Regions from separate parts of the Homo sapiens genome. Here region 2 is linked to region 1. Evidence: fine-mapped expression QTL. A gene starts in region 1. The other region holds a variant in brackets. All regions are shown on one strand. Distances are between the middles of the regions.

Region 1 (2,906 bases):
GGTCGAGACAGGAAGATTGCTTGAGCCCAGGAGTTGGAGACCAGCCCGAGTGACATAGGAAGACCATGTTTGCAAAAAACAAAAAAATTAGCCAGATGTGGTGCACACCTGTATTCCCAGCCCCTCGGAGGTTGAGGTGAGAGGGTGGCTTGAGCCCAGGAGTTCAAGGCTGCAGTGAGCTATGATCGTGTCACTACTCCAGCCAGGGTGACAGAGACCCTGTCTCTTAAAAAAGATTAAAAAAAAAAAAAAAGTCAAGTGCCTACCAGATGCCTAATTCTTTTTTTTTTTTTTTTTTTTTTTGAGACAGAGTCTCGCTCTGTTGCCCAGGCTAGAGTCAGTGGTGCAATCTTGGCTCATGGCAACCTTCGCCTCCTGGGATCAAGTGATTCTCCTGCCTCAGCCTCCTGAGGAGCTGGGATTATAGGCACCCGCCACCACACCCAGTAATTTTTGTATTTTTAGTGGAGATGGGGTTTCACCATGTTGGCCAGGCTGGTCTCAATCTCCTGACCTCAGGTGATCCACCCGCCTCGGCCTCCCAAAGTGCTGGGATTACAGGTGTGAGCCACTGTGCCTGGCCCTGATTTAGTTCCTTTCCTCCAAGGCTGGCTTCTACCTCTTCCCCACACAGTGACACTGTACCCCGACCAGACAAGCAAGTGTCTGCTTTCCCTTGGCTTCTTACAACTGGCTCTCTGGGCCATCTACAAAAAATTTTAAAAAATTAGTACAGCATGGTGGCACTACTGTCCTAGCTACTTGGGAGGCTGAGTTGGGAGGATTGATTGAGCCTGGGAGGTCGAGTGCAGTGAGTGATGATTGTGCCACTGCAGTCCAGCCTGGGTGACAGAGCGAGATCCTCTATCAAAAACAAATAAACAAAAAAGCACTTTGCAGAGGTGACTGAATGTTCTGGAACCCCTGGGCCATTGGAAATGGATATCTGTTGCTCCATCCTCCAGTTTACACCGTAGCCTCAGCTTGTGTCTCAGTGTGCCCCTCTCCCTCTGGTCTGTGCTCTCTCTCTTCCAGAGGCTGGGAAGGTTGTTCCAGGGCTGCAGCCTTGGACCTCAGAGGTCACATGTTGCGGGTTTGCCGTAGCTGACCACTCTCTAGCATGTGGATCAGTGGCTGTTAAATAGGATTTCTTTTGCGTGGCCTTACAACTTCCTCCTTCCAGTGCAGGCGTGTCAAGGTCCTTAACCTGCCGAGACTTCAGGTCAAGTTATTGCAAGTTCTGGGAAGACTCAGCTTCCCAGCTCCACCGCCTGAGCCCAAGGGATGCTCCATTTTATGCCTGTCACCCACGCCCTGTGACCCATGTCATGTGATCCCAGGGCTGCAGGGGTTCGGGGGAAGAGAATCCAGCCACGGCCCTGCCTTCTGGGGCCTGGCAGCTGGGACAGCAGTGGCGCAGCCTGAGCCTCTGCACAGCCTTCTGGGGTCCGGGCTTCTTCCCCATCACACCCTCCTAGTTGCCCTGGTGACTGTGTGACCCCTCTCCCCCCTCCACCGCCTGCTGCCACGGCCGGCCGTATAAATAGAGGCGAGGAGCAGCTGGGCTCTCTTGGCAGTCACCATGAGGGCGCTGGTCCTGCTCGGCTGCCTCCTGGCCTCGCTCCTGTTCTCAGGACAAGCAGGTAGGGCCCCTCCCAGCATGACCCAGCCCAGACTGGTCCCCCACGCTTCCTCCAAGGTTTTCTGTCTACCATGGGTTGGGTAGGGGGTCGGGGCTGATGGCAAACCCTGGCTCTTGGCTGGTGTCTTCTTACCCTTCTCTTTTCCCCGGGCCTGGGGCCTCAGAGAAAGAGCTGGGTGCTGGAGAATAGCAGCACAGTTGCGGGGCCCTCAGGAAGGCCAGAGGAAGTGGGAACGGCAAACAGAGCTGAGCTGTGAGCCAGGGTCAGAGAGGAGTCTGGCCAGTAGATGTGGGAAAGAGGGCCCTCAAAGTCGAGACGGGGGAGCCTCTGAGACGGACAAAATAGCACAGTCTGGGAGCTGGAGGTCGTTGAGGTGACCCTCCCACCTGGTGGGATATAAGGCGGAGGCCCCACTCGGGTAAGAGAACTGGGTTTGCGTGGACAGAAGGGGATACAGTGGGCAAAGGTGGGGACCGTTTTGGGAGCAGTGAGATAGAATTGGAATTGGTTTGGGATAAGATCGGAAATAGAGTTGGCGGTTGGGCTGGAAACAGCATTGGATGCAATTCAGAAGAGGAACGGGGCCCGTTCTGGAGTAGAGCCTCTGCTCGGGGTGGGGGCTTCCATCAGAAAAGGGGCTTGGCTCTGTGTGCTGAGGCTTCCCTTTGACATCTCAGCACTTTGGGTAGCAGAGGTGGTGGCTTGGGTTGCAGCATGGGGGTTATCTATAGGCTATGGAGGAGATGCCAGATTGTTTTGCCACCTCTCTTGTTCCTAAGGTTCCTGAGGCCAGGTTCCCCGAGGGAATGCTTTTAGGGAGGTGCTCCGGGGATCCCCCTAGGATCCGGACTGCCCACCGAGTCTTTTCATGACTCGGCAGTCTTCCCCCAAGCTGGGCTCTGAGCCTAGGTCCGTACCTGGGACTGGAGAGGCCCAGAGTCCAGCCTCTCAGGTCTTTGAGGTTGAATAGGGGGTTGCAGGGGCACAGTCCCTGCAGGGAGAGCAGGCAGTGGGTGGGAACAAAAGCTATTTCTCGGGGACTCAAGATGTAAGGTGGGGGGCTCCAGCCACTGCATGTGCTGCTGGGCCCTGCCCTTGTCTGTCCTTGAGTTAATTTGGGCTCTGCAGGGCTGCAGCGGCTTGAGTGCTGAGTATTCCAGGCGGCTGTCAGGCGGCTAAGTATGGAAACAGCCGCGTAATTGGATCCGGAGCCCCAAGCCGCTGCCACCCTCTCCCTTCGTGGCCGCTCCTGTGCTGCCCCCC
Region 2 (2,906 bases), 28 kb after region 1:
GTCAACCACAGCCTCCCCAGTAGCTGGGACCACAGGCGCACGCTACCATGCCAAGCTAATTTTAAAATTTTTTGGAAAGATGGGCCAGTAGTAAGACAAAGCAAGTAGTAAGCAAGACAGAGGTCTTGCTTTGTTACCCAGGCTGGTTTCAAACTCCTGGGCTCTAGGGATCCTCTCACCTCGGCCTCCCAAAGTGCTGGGATTACAGGTGTGAGCCATGGGCTCTCAGAGCCACTGCGTCCAGCCTAAAACAGTTGTTATTGAAGAGTAGAAGAGGGTGGGCTAAGAAATCACTGTCCTAGGGTAGACTTAGACCCTCTTATTGGCTGGCCCACTGCTGGGAGAGCGTCCATAGAGAGCTGAGTTCTAGAAGCAGACTGCTGCCTACTACCTTAACTAGCCCCATGGCCTTGGGACAAGCACTTACCAGGGTTTTGGGGTTTTGTTCATGAGTGAAATCAAGCCAGTTGGTCTATCAGAAGATCTCTCTGGACCCCCAAATCCCAAGGTTCTTTCTGATTGCTACCTTTGTCATTGTACCCTGTCATACTTTTGTCATTGTATCTGATTCCCTGGATGAATCATTTTAAGGGCTAGAGTCCAGCCAGGGACAAGCTGTCCCAGTGGGATTAGCCTTGACTTTAGGAGCATGGCCAGGAAGCCAAAGAAGCCTTCCAAGAATGGCTGCCTCAGCCCCTGCACTCTGGTCGCCCATGTTGGGAGAAGAGGGAAAGGCTGAGAGAATGGCAGAAGAGGACCTCAGGGGTCCTGGGAGAATGCAGACAAGCCTTCCTCCAGCCAGAATTTCTCTTCTCGGGTCCTTATGGGCAACAGCCTTCTGCAAAGTTGTCCTAAGACTTCATCTAAGAAGTGGAAGAGGCCGGGTGCAGTGGCTCATGCCTGTAATCCCAGCACTTTGGGAGGCTGAGGCGGGTGGATCACCTGAGGTCAAGAGTTTGAGACCAGCCTGGCCAACATGGTGAAACCCTGTCTCTACTAAAAATACAAAAATTAGCCAGGAGTGGTGGCAGGCACCTGTAATCCCAGCTACTCGGGAGGCTGAGGCAGGAGAATCGCTTGAACCCAGGAGGCAGAGGTTGCAGTGAGCCAAGATCGCACCACTGTACTCCACCCTGGGCGACAGAATGAGACTTCGTCTAAAAAAAAAAAAAAAAGTGGAAGAGCAAGGGGTCCTGAGCAGTGAATGTTTACCCAGTAGGATAAAGTCAAGGAAAAACAGGACACCAGAAGAGGCTGCTGGCCCACGTTTGCCCGGTCCACGAGTGTTCAGAGACAAGATCTAGAACAAGGAAGGGGGCAGGCTGCCTGCTCTGCGGCATGAACTCTGTTTTCTGAATTGCTCCCTGCTGCACTTAATATACAGCCAATGAGAGCCAAAACGTGGGGCGGGGGGTGGATGGGGGCAAGACATGGGGCTCACATGTATGCCATGGCTGGTGCTCCTCACTCTCTGGGACAGATGAACCAGGCAGAGATTTGGAGAGTGATTCCTGCCCCCGCTGGGGATTCTGTTACTAATGACTGATTTGCATAACTGTGTATGAGTAATGGTCAGAGGTATTTTACTTACGCATGACTTTGGACTTGCTAGCTCTAGTTCAAATGGATGAGAAGTCATGTGGAAGAATAACCTTGGCAGGTACTTGTTATAAACATGTGCTAAGGAGACTTGGACGGGCTGGAATAGAATCTACATTTGATT[G/C]CACGAAGGCACTGAATACATTCAACACCCAGAGGTGGGCTGAAAACAGGTCCTGACCTCTATTCTCTCCATCTCTAGTTTCAACTTCAAGACAGAGCTTCCTGGCCCTTGGTACTGAGGATGGCTAGTGCAGAGGGTCCGAAATGCTGGTGTTCTGTAGAATCCCCTTGTGAAACACACAGGTACACGTTGACCCAGCCCCAGAAGCTGGGTATCTGGGCTTGAACAGCTCAGCAGGTCATGGTCGCTCCCAGGGAGCTTTGTTCTGTCTCTTGGCCTGAGTTCCAGCCCATCCCTGGAATGACTTGTGAGGCAAACGACTTGACTTCCGTGTGTTTGTTTCCTCATTTCAAGAGAGGTTAACAACCCTTGCTTTTTCTGCCTCAGAGGGCTGCTAGGAGCATCAGAGAAGAATAAGCACAGGAAACTACCTTGGAAAGATGGAGTCCTACGTGAGGGCAGGAGATGACCCAGCTGAGAGCCTGGCACGTGTGGACTGGCAAAGTGAAAATATGCTGTAAGCGTGGTTCACACCTGTAATCCCAGCACTTTGGGAGGCTGAGGTGGGAGGATCGCTTGAGGCCAGGAGTTTGAGACCAGCCTGGGCAACATAGCGAGACCTCATCTCTACAAAAATGAAAAAAATCAGCTGGATGTGGTGGCACACACATGGAGTTCCAGCTGTTTGGGGGAGCTGAGGTGGGAGGATCCCTTGAGCCCAGGAGGTGGAGGCTGCAGTGAGGTGTCATTGTGCCATTGAACCCCAACCTGGGCGACAGCAAGACCTGTCTCAAAAAAAAAAAAAAAAAAAAAAAAAAGAAAAAGAAAAAGAAAAAAAAAGATGCTGTAAGCAGGATGTCTTGGGACGTTGGAGAAAATAATGGATAGGAGGCTCAAGGCAGATACTAATATTTTGAAGGAAGAAGCGAGGAGAGTAAAGGAGCAGGGCTTGCCAATCTCCCTGCAGTCTTTCTCTGTGGACACTGGGGCAGACAAATTCAAGGAGAGCAGGAAGTACAAAGTGGGTGGCTGTCTCTGCTGTTTGATCTTTCCTCACCCCATGAGTCACTTCTATGGAACCCTAGCACTTCATGGGACATGGTTTGTGAACTCCATGGGGGCAAAAAGAACTCCAGACTAAGGTTCATATATTTGGACTCTGTCCCACCCCTGCCCCAATCTT

The links.
Region 2: its variant is fine-mapped to the expression of SRL in skeletal muscle (GTEx, PIP above 0.99).

What each region holds. Positions count from the first base shown.
Region 1 is chr16:4,240,744-4,243,649 of GRCh38, reverse strand. It overlaps SRL (sarcalumenin), which reads left to right and starts at 1,570. Exons shown (of 6, transcript NM_001098814.2): 1 at 1,570-1,643. The coding sequence starts at 1,583.
Region 2 is chr16:4,213,040-4,215,945 of GRCh38, reverse strand. All of the region lies in intron 1 of SRL (sarcalumenin), which reads left to right. Among named protein-coding and RNA genes, the nearest start is that of SRL, 28 kb to the left of the region's middle. The variant G/C (reference allele first, on the strand shown) is at 1,724.